Regions from separate parts of the Homo sapiens genome. Here region 1 is linked to region 2. A link means that fine-mapping ties the variant in region 2 to the expression of a gene that starts in the linked region. Tissue or cell type: esophagus muscle. Region 2 holds a variant in brackets; the other region holds the start of a gene. All regions are shown on one strand. Distances are between the middles of the regions.

Evidence for each region. PIP is the estimated chance that this variant, and not a neighbour inherited with it, causes the effect.
Region 1: it holds the start of RHOXF1, and the variant in region 2 is fine-mapped to the expression of RHOXF1 in esophagus muscle (GTEx, PIP above 0.99). The same link has a PIP of 0.9 or more in aorta, atrial appendage, ileum, left ventricle, stomach and transverse colon.

What each region holds. Positions count from the first base shown.
Region 1 is chrX:120,112,971-120,118,119 of GRCh38, reverse strand. It overlaps RHOXF1 (Rhox homeobox family member 1), which reads left to right and starts at 2,207. Exons shown (of 3, transcript NM_139282.3): 1 at 2,207-2,655. The coding sequence starts at 2,258. The region is part of intron 1 of RHOXF1-AS1 (RHOXF1 antisense RNA 1); the gene reads right to left. LINC01402 (long intergenic non-protein coding RNA 1402) reads left to right here. Exons shown (of 3, transcript NR_126557.1): 2 at 209-258; 3 at 411-478.
Region 2 is chrX:120,140,693-120,145,841 of GRCh38, reverse strand. RHOXF1-AS1 (RHOXF1 antisense RNA 1) reads right to left here. Exons shown (of 5, transcript NR_131238.1): 4 at 1,942-2,119; 5 at 1-204. Among named protein-coding and RNA genes, the nearest start is that of RHOXF2, 15 kb to the left of the region's middle. The variant G/A (reference allele first, on the strand shown) is at 2,186.

The DNA.
Region 1 (5,149 bases), 28 kb after region 2:
TAGTGGCTTCCTCAAGGCAGCCTGTACTACTTCCCCTCAACTAGCTCTGGAATAAAGCCACTTTCTTTCTACCAGACGTCGTTCTTGTTCACTGGACTTTGCAACTGGTGAGCAGTCGGAGCTGTGTTCAGTTACATGTATGCCTTGCCTCATTGAACTCTCATGAAAACCCTATGATCGAGACACTGTTGTTATCTCCATTTTATAGGTGAGGAAGCTGAGAACCAGATAGATTCATCCAGTGTCCTAGGACACACAGTGAGTCATGCTTCGGATCTGTGCTCCTAGCTGATGCCTCCCATTACTGGTAGTCCTTTCCTGCTCCCCACAATGTACATTTATTCATTTCTTTTTCTATTTTCTTATTATCTTTCTATTTTTCTTCTTCTTCCTCTCTCTTCTCTCACTAGGGATAGAACGCAAGGATCTCACTTAGCCCAGTGGATGGCAGTCAATTAATGGAGCGAGTGGCTTAGTCCTTGTCATGCTGCCAAGTGCAAGGGCCTTTCCATGCTCAGAATCACCATGAAGACGAGAGCTATCTCTCTTGGTAGGCTACAGACTCAAAGGGTCTGCATATTTATATATGCTGCCAAAAAAACCTCAAATAACCAATAGATATAAATAGATACAGAAAGTTTTTAAAAGAACATTTAAAAATAAAATTTTTAAAAATATTTTTAAAAAACAAAATAAAGTATATAACATCACTTAAGAGCACACACACAATCTCTAGAAAAATTAAGGATTCATGAGTTGTCCACCCTCAAAAGACATCTCCATGCCCTTCCTCATGACAGACTCTCTTAGCGCTTTCCTTTCTTTCATTTTCATTTTATTTCTTATTTTATTATTTATTTTAAAGAAAAGGGGCCTCTGTCTGTTGCCCAGGCTGGAGTGCTGCCATGTGATTCTAGCTCACCACAGCCTCAAACTCCTGGGTTCAAGTGATCCTCCCATCTCAGCCTCCTGAGTAGCTGGGACTAGTGCAGGAGCCACTGCACCAGGCTCTTCAGGGTTTTTCTTCGTAATTGGGCTTATTGGGGTCAGTGGTAGGAAGGCTGTGTAGTTACAAGGCTCTGTGGAGCAGAAGTGGCCCCACATCCAGTAAGCTGCATATCCTTAAATCCCAAATCTCCATCCCAAGATTGGAGATTTTTGGCAGGTATGCCCTTACTGGTGCTCTTCCTATACCATCCCCGATTTTATTTATTTATTTATTTTTTGCTTGTCCTTATAGCACTCCATTTTGCCATGAGTACAGGTTTCTCTTGCATAGCCAAAGATATTCAGTCTCAGGCTAACAGATTCAGCCTCGTGTTTATTCTGTGTTGACTTTCTCAAAGGGTGCGTTAGATTTCTTGCAGAGCACATCTTACCACCCAGAATGCTCTGCATGCCCATCTCCAAGATCCCGATCCCAGCACTGAAGAGAGCATGGCAGCTCTGCTTTCAGTGCCTTTGCTGGAACTCTGAACAAGCAGCCCCCAGTCAATCATTTCTGCTTAATTAATAGCCCGCGCCCTGTGCATGCTGCCAAATATGGAGGGTCAGGCCATGAGATATTCTCCAAACTTTTACTCAAGGCGTCCTATGGTCACCGTGAGATCTCACCTCCCCTCTGAGCCCCCAAATCAGCTTTCCTCAGGGTAATAACTAGGCCCGAGTAGGGTGTAGTCAGCAAAGCTGCAAGCTGGGGCCCCATGTTGCATACATATATGCCTCCTATTGGCCCTTTTCTTCTCCACACTGCCCCTGTGTTTTGGCCACCCCACTCCACCCTCAACTGCCACCCCCACCCACGACCCATACCACACCCCTCACCCCCACCCACAACCCCTACCCCCACCACGCACCCTCCACCCACACCTCCCATCTCCACCCGCTACCCCCACCCCCACCATGTACCCCCACCGGCAACCCCCACCCCAACCCACAACCCCTACCCTCACCCGCAACCCCCACCCTCACTGTGCACCCCCCACCCTCCACCCACACCCCCATCCCCACCTGCACCCCACCCCACACTCACAACCCCCCACTCCCACCTGCAACACCCCCACTCCCCACCCGCACCCCCCAACTTCCCATCCCCCCACTCCTCTCCATTCCCTCTCTTGCTTGTGCGCATAAGCAAGTCCCACTCATTGCAACTGTAACCAATACCAAGCATGAGAACAGGAACTAGCTCCACCCTCTAACCCCCACTCCAGCTGCAGACGCCACGGAGTTTGTGCAGGGGCGCAGCGCTCCAGCCATGGCGCGTTCGCTCGTCCACGACACCGTGTTCTACTGCCTGAGTGTATACCAGGTAAAAATAAGCCCCACACCTCAGCTGGGGGCAGCATCAAGCGCAGAAGGCCATGTTGGCCAAGGAGCTCCAGGCCTCATGGGTAATATGAACCCTGAGGGCGGTGTGAACCACGAGAACGGCATGAACCGCGATGGCGGCATGATCCCCGAGGGCGGCGGTGGAAACCAGGAGCCTCGGCAGCAGCCGCAGCCCCCGCCGGAGGAGCCGGCCCAGGCGGCCATGGAGGGTCCGCAGCCCGAGAACATGCAGCCACGAACTCGGCGCACGAAGTTCACGCTGTTGCAGGTGGAGGAGCTGGAAAGTGTTTTCCGACACACTCAATACCCTGATGTGCCCACAAGGTAAGTGGCCTGCTCCAGGAGCCACGAGATCTCCAAGTTCGTTTCGAGGCATCTTTTTCTCTCCCTTGCCCCACCCAATCATGAGGAAAAAGCCACTGGGGGTCCTTGCCTGCCTTTGTGCTGGTGTGGAGGGGGATATTTACCTCCTGGGCATCAAGGTAAATGTTTTATTGCAATGTTTATGTGAATGAAACCTGGAAACTAGTCCGTGCCTCCCTTTTATAAAGATGTGGTAAAATACACGGAAATATGAAATTTACCGTCCAAACCACTTTTTAAGTATAGAGTTCAGTTGTGTTAAGTATGTTCACATTGTTGTGCAATAGATCTCTAGAATTCTTCTCATCTTGCCAAGCTAAGTCTCTATACCAGTTAAGCAACTCCCCTTTTCCCCCTTTCCCCAGCCCTTGGCAACCACCATTCTACTATTTTATGTCTCTATGATTTTGACTACTCTAGGTATCTCATGTAAGTAGAATCATACAGTATTTGCATTTTTGTCACTGACTTATTTCACTTAGCATAAGGTCTTCAAGGTTCATCCATATCGCAGCATATATTAGAATTTCCTTCCTTTTTAAGGCTAAATAATATTCCATTTTATAGATACAGGTGCACACCAACAGTACATGGGGGTTCCAGTTTCTCCACATCCTCACCAACACTTGTTATTTTCTGGGGTTTTTTACATAGCCATCCTAATGGGTGTGAGGTGATACTTCATTGTAGTTTCGATTTGCTTTTCCCTAATGATTAGTGATGTTGTGCATCCTTTCATGTGCTTAGTGGCCACTTGTATATCTTCTTTGGAGAAATATCTCTTTAAGTCCTTTACCCATTTTAAAATCTGAGTGGCTTTTTCTTTCTTTCTTTCTTTTTTTTTGGTTATTGGGTTGTAGGAGTTCTTTATACACTCTGGATATTAACCCCTTATCAGATGTGATTTGCAAATATTTCCTTCCATTCTATGAGTTGTCTTTTTACTCTGTTCATTGCATCTTTTGATATACAGAAGTTTTAAATTTTGATATAGTCCAAGTTATGTATTTTTTCTTTTATTACCTGTGATGATGGCCTGTTTTTGTTGTTGTTGTTGTTTTTGTTGAGTGGGGGATCTGTCACCCAAGCAATCCTCCCATCTCAGCCTCCTGAGTTGCTGGGATTATAGGAGTGAGCCACCACACCCAGCTGTGGTCTGTTTTTATAAATAAAATTTTATTGAAATTGGGGTAAGGAGAATGAGGTACTGTCATGCAACTACAGTGCTAGATCCTTCCTTTATTTAAAATTTTGATAATTTGTTCATCATAGTTTTTTTTTGTTTGTTTGGTTGGTTTTTTGTTTTTCTGGTTTTTTTGTTTTGTCTTGAGACAGAGTCTCTCTCTGTGGCCCAGGTTGGAGTGCAGCAGTGCGATTTCAGCTCTCTGCAACATTTGCTTCCTGGGTTCAAGCCATCCTCCCGTGTCAGCCCCCTGAGTAGCTGGGACTGCAGGCACAGGCCACCACACCTGGCTAATTTTTGTATTTTTTTTGTGTGTAGAGATAAGGTTTCGCCGTGTTGCCCAGGCTAGTCTCAAACTCCTGGGCTCAAGCAATTTGCCTGCCTCGGCCTCCCAAACTGCTGGGATTACAGGCCTGAGCCACAGTGCCTGGTCCTCATCACAGATTTTTGCATTAATTGTTATTTATTAAAATAGTGCATTAGGGCCAGGCACGGTGGCTCAGGCCTGTAATTCCAGCGCTTTTGGGAGGCCAAGGTGGGAAGGTTGCTTGAGTCCAGGAGTTCAAGAACAGCCTGGGCAACATGGCAAAACCCCGTCTCTAAATAAAACTTAAAAAATTAGCCATGTGGGTGTGGTGGTGTGTGCCTGTACTCCCAGCCACTTGGAAGGCTGAGGCAGGAGGATCGTTCGAGCCCAGGACATGCAGGCTGCAGTGAGCAGTGATCCTGCCACTGCACTCCAACATAGACGACAGTGAGACCCTGTCTCAAATAATAATAATAAAAATAATAATAATGCATTAAATTATTCATCTTGGCCGGGTGCGGTGGTTCATGCCCCAAATCCCAGCACTTTGGGAGGCTGAGACGGGCAGGAGTTCGAGACCAGCCTGGCCAACATGGCAAAACCCCATCTCTACTAAAAATACAAAAATCAACTGGGCATGGTGGTATGTGCCTGTAATCGCAGCTACTCGGGAGGCTGAGGCACGAGAATCGTCTGAACCCCGGAGGCGGAGGTTGCAGTGAGCTGAAATCACACCACTGCACTCCAGCCTAGGAGACAGAGTGAGACCTTGTCTCAATTTAAAAAAAAAAAGGTATTTCTCTTGATTACTGAGTTGTTAACGTCACCTTAAATTTCGTGATGAGGGTAAACCATTTCTAAAGCAACCATGGAGCTGGGAATTAGAGAAAAGTATATACTTGGGGGAGGTGTGAGGGGAGATTATAAATTGTAAAACAAGCATGAAGTAAATAGTACATACTATA
Region 2 (5,149 bases):
TGTTTTCTTGACTTGAGTATGGTGGGTCCATCCTTTCTCAGCTGTGAGGATGGCAGTCTCAGTGGTTAACAGCATAAAATAGGGTCCTTCTCAGGCTGGCTCGAGTTTTTTTCTTTCTGTCTTTTGATGAGGATGTGGTTTCCAGGCTGCTGCTGGTGTACTGGAAATTCTAGGGCTGGTACCCGTGCTAAAAGACTTTTAGTTCTGAGGGAAGGGAAAGTGGAAGATAAAAAGTATATAATTTTTGCTGCATATTCTGGGGCTTGAGGTCCCATGGTGATGCCTCCCACTCCATTCCTGCTCAGCACCACTCACAGGATGCTGCAGCCCTGCCCCCTCTTAAGGTCTTGGCCTTCTAGTGGCCTTCATCTCCCCTGCACATTGTGGCCTTGGGGATGAGGAGCTTGTGACTTACCCAGCTGCCCTCGGACCTTAAGAAAGCTAAACACCATTTTATATTTGACAATGCTTTTTGTATGATTTTGTACCAGGTAAGTTAAATTTTACCTTTATATTAATGTGCTATTAATGTTAAACTTAATTTTAATAAAATCTTGTAGATATTATCCAATTTTAATGTCTGACTATAAGGTAAGATTTTTATAGACTCTTTTTAACATGTTAAATTTTTTGTTAAAGAGCAGGTTAGTGCTTTAAGAATAAACTATTGTGGTTTTATTTTAATGTTCAGTTCACAGCAAAACTGGATGATAAACCCTTTACCTTTAGCCAAAATGTTTACACACAGAATTTCCTTTACAATTAACATGTTAAAACTTGCTTAAACCTTTAAAACAAAAATTTTTAAACCTTTTAATGTAGGTAAAAATCCATATTCTTATGCCTCCTTATAATCCTTTTATTAAAAGTATATTTTATTTTTCTTACATACTTTGTACATAAACTGTTTTTTTAATAGTTTTACATTCAGGAGGCCTAATTACTTTTAAATTATACAATATTTCTTGCATAAATTCCCTTTATAACCTTTCTTACGACTTTCACAGACAATCTTCAACATGTCTTAACTTTCTGCCTTCCTTTTACACTATTTCTTTTCCTAGTTTCACCCTCTGTCTTTCTTTGATTTCTGTCTCTTACTTATTCTTTCCCTCTATTTCTCTCTCTCATTTGCACTCTCTTTTTTTCTCTCTCTCTCCGTCATCCCTTGTTCCTTTTTCCCTCCCAAGTTCTCCTGCTCCTGCCGGCCGGCAAGGCCGGGCAATGGCATGGGTCCCGCCCCCACACACACACTGCCGTCTGTTTCATCTGCTTTTTTTTTCTTTTCCCAATTTCCCTTTTTACTTTTTTCCTTTCTTCTTACACTCAGTTTCTTGGGCTGGGTGGGATTTGTGGGGCTGCAGTCCAGACCCCGGGCCATCACTGGCCCAGAGGCTTGGCAGATGCCTGCTGCAAGTTGCAATAATTATGCCCTTTCACCTCCTCTGCTCTCCTCCTGGCGCCGTTCCCCACCCTCTTTTTCACATAGAGCTGGGCTGGGGAGAGGGACTTAACCCTTGGTGCGCCTGTCTGGTGTCACGCTTGCTGTTTTTGCTCTTTCTCTCTGACTTCCTTTCCTGGTTTCTTTTTCCTCCCTGCTGGACTTCGCCTCTGCCAGCCACCTATGCTGCTGTTTTCCCCCCTCTCCTTCCCCTTCCCCTAGGGGAGCAACTGGTGGGAGTGGAGCTTAGCCTTTTTCTTTTCCTGAGAAGAGAGGAAAGGGGAGTTTTGAATATATATTTACTACCGGAGGTTTGTGTGAGATTCAACCCCCACAATGGGGATTTCTCACCTCTTTGAGGTTCAATCCCCCAATGGGGATTTCTCACCTCTTTTTGAGGTTCAACCCCTACAATGGGGATTTCTTACCTCTTTTTAAGGTTTAACCCCCCCAATGGGGATTTCTCACCTCTTTTTAACCACCCCAAGGAAATACTTTACCGGCTCTCCCAGTGTTTTTTTTTCGTCGATTTGGGCACAGAGTTTCCTGGTTCACGTGGATGTGAGGATCCTTTACTCCAGATCGCCAGCCAGTTTTTGTTTTTTTTTTCCTGCGTTGCTGAGAGTCTGGGTTTATTCATCACACCAGGTGGATCTTAATTCCATATCCCTGAGGCCACTGCAATGAGGCAGAGGAGTGTGCTCCCTCATGAGAAAGGACTGGAGACCGCCCCCAGAAGAGAAC[G/A]TATCCATGTACGGATTTCCACCAAAATTGTTAGAAATGCTTGTTTCCCAGTGCCATAAAGAAATTTACTTGAACATAAATTTAATTTCCTCAGCAAGGGCATTTTTACTTTCTGCAGAAAGGGTACACTCGCCAGCTGTTCTGCCATGAGAGTACACTGAACAAGGGAGACAGGGTCATTTATAACCTGACATGTCCACCCTACTGCTATGTCCAGTCTCCATTGGCTGGAATGGAACCTCACATTCTGTATTAGTCCTGATTGGCTAGCAACTTAGAACTTTTTAAAAGAGGCAAAGGCAGAGGAGAACAAAGGAAGGAGGAAGTAATTTATGGAATGCTGAGAAAGGTAAAAACACCTTCAAATAAGGAAAAGGAACAGGCTATCCTAATGCTTGCTTGGACCAGTATAAGCATGCCAGGGCAAATATTTAGGCTAAATTGTGGAAGCTAAGAACATAAAGTACATTGATTTCTTTATTACAGCTCACAGATATTTAAGAATGTTAGCCCAGGTCTTTGAATAAATTTTGCTTCTAAGAGAAGTTACTATTTCTTCCTAATTAGATGGGGAGGAAAGTCTTTGAAGAGGAACCTCTACTTTACTTTTCACAATCATGAAATGAAATTAGAAACCAATAGCAGAAGGGAAACTGGGAAATTCACAAATATGCGGAAATAAATAATATGCTGTTAAACAACAAATGGATTGAAGAAGATATCACCAGGGAAACTAGAAAATACTTAGAGATGCATTAAAATGAAGACACAAACTCCCAAAACCTATGAAATGCAGCAAAAACAATGCTCAGAGGAAAATCTATACCTAAAAACACCTACATTAAAAAAGAAGAAATGTGCAAAATCAATAATCGAACTTACACATTTAGAAACTAGCAAAGGAGAGGAAACTAGACCAAAGCTAGCAGAAGGAAGGAAATAATAAAGAATGGAGACAAACAAAATAGAGAATAGGAAAGCAATATAAACTATCAGCAGATCCAAAATGTGGTTCTCTGAAAGATCAACAAAGTTGACAAACTTTTAGCCAGACTAACAAAAGAGGGAATATCAAAAACTAAAATAAGAAATGAAAGAGGGGATAATACTGGTAAAAAAAAAAAAAAAAAAAAAAAAAAACCAGACACATAGACCAATGGAAAAGAATAGAGAGCCCAGAAATAAAGCTGCACACCTATGGCCATTTGATCTCTTACAAACTTGACAAAAATAAGCAATGGGGAAAGGACTCCCTATTCAGTAAATGGTGCTGAGATAGCTAACTAGCTATATGCAGAAGAATGAAACTGGGCCCCTACATATCATATACAAAAATTATCTGAAGATGGGTTATCATATACAAACATTTTATCATATACAAAAATTAACTGAAGATGGGTTAAAGATTTAAATGTAAGATATCAAACTATAAGAACCCTAGAAAATCTAGGAAACACCATTCTGGACATCAGCCTCAAGAAAGAGTTTGTGAGTAAGTCCTCAAAAGCAATTGCAACAAAAACAAAAATTGACAATTGGGACCCAAGTAAACTAAAGCACTTTTGCATAGCAAAAGAAGCTATAAACAGAGTAAATAGACAACCCACAGAATGGGAGAAAATATTCACAAACTATGCATCCAACAAAGGCCTACTATCCAGAATCTATAAGGAAACAATTCAAGAAATAAAAAACAAGTAACTCCATTAAAAAGCAGGCAAAAAACACATGAACAGACACTTTTCAAAAGGAGACATACAAGTGGCCAACAAACATTTGAAAAAATGTTCAATATCACTAATCATCAGAGAAATGCAAATCAAAACCACAATGAGATACCATCTCACACCCATCAGAATAGCTATTATTAATAAATCAAAAAACAACAGATGCTGGTGAGGCTGCAGAAGAAAGGACACTTACACACTGTTGGTGGAAATGTCAATTAGTTCAGCCACTTTGGAGAGCAATTTGGAGAATTCTCAAAGAACTTAAAACAGAATTATCATTTGACCCAGCAATCCCATTACTGGCATACATCCAAAAGAAAATAAACTGTTCTACCAAAAAGACACATTCACTCATATATTCATCACAGCAATATTCACTGTAGTGAAGACATGGAATCAACCTAGGTGCCTATCAATGGTGGACTGGATAAAGAAAATGTGGCACACATACACCGTGGCATACCGTGCAGACATAAAAAGAATGAAATCATGTCCTTTGCAGCAACAAGGATGCAGCTGGAGGCCATTATCCTAAGTTAATTAACATAGGAACAGAACACCAAATACTGCATGTACTCACTTATAGTGGTAGCTAAACATTGGGTACTCATGGACATAAAGATGGCAATAATAGGCACTAGGGACTGATGGGGGGAGGTAGGGAAGGGGGCAAGGGTTGAAAAACTAACTGTTGGGTACTATGTTCACTAGTATCCCATCCGGATGACAGGACCATTCAGATCTCAAACCTCAACATCATGCAATATACTCATGTAACAAACCTGCACATGTATCCCCTGAATCAAAAATAAAAGCTGAAATTATTTTTTTAGAAAAAGAAGAGGGGATGTTACCACTGATTTGACAGAAATAAAAAGGATTATAAGAAAATACTATGAACATTGTATTTCAACAAATTAGATGCCCTAATACATTGAAAAACAATTCCTACAAACACACAAACTACCAAAACTGACTCAAGAATAAATAGAAAATCTGCAAAGACTTATAACAAGTATGATATTTGACAATAGTGCCAAACCATTCAAAGTGAAACCACTTCCTCTGGGGCAATACCTGTAGTTAGTTGTCTCGCGCCGATGATTAACAACATGGACACACACGTGGAGTGGGTTAAGGAGCAGAAAGTTTAACAGACAAAAAGGAAGAGAGATAGAATAAGCTTCCTCATGCTGAGAAAGCGGGTCACCTGAGAGAGGGTTTCTGGGTTAGG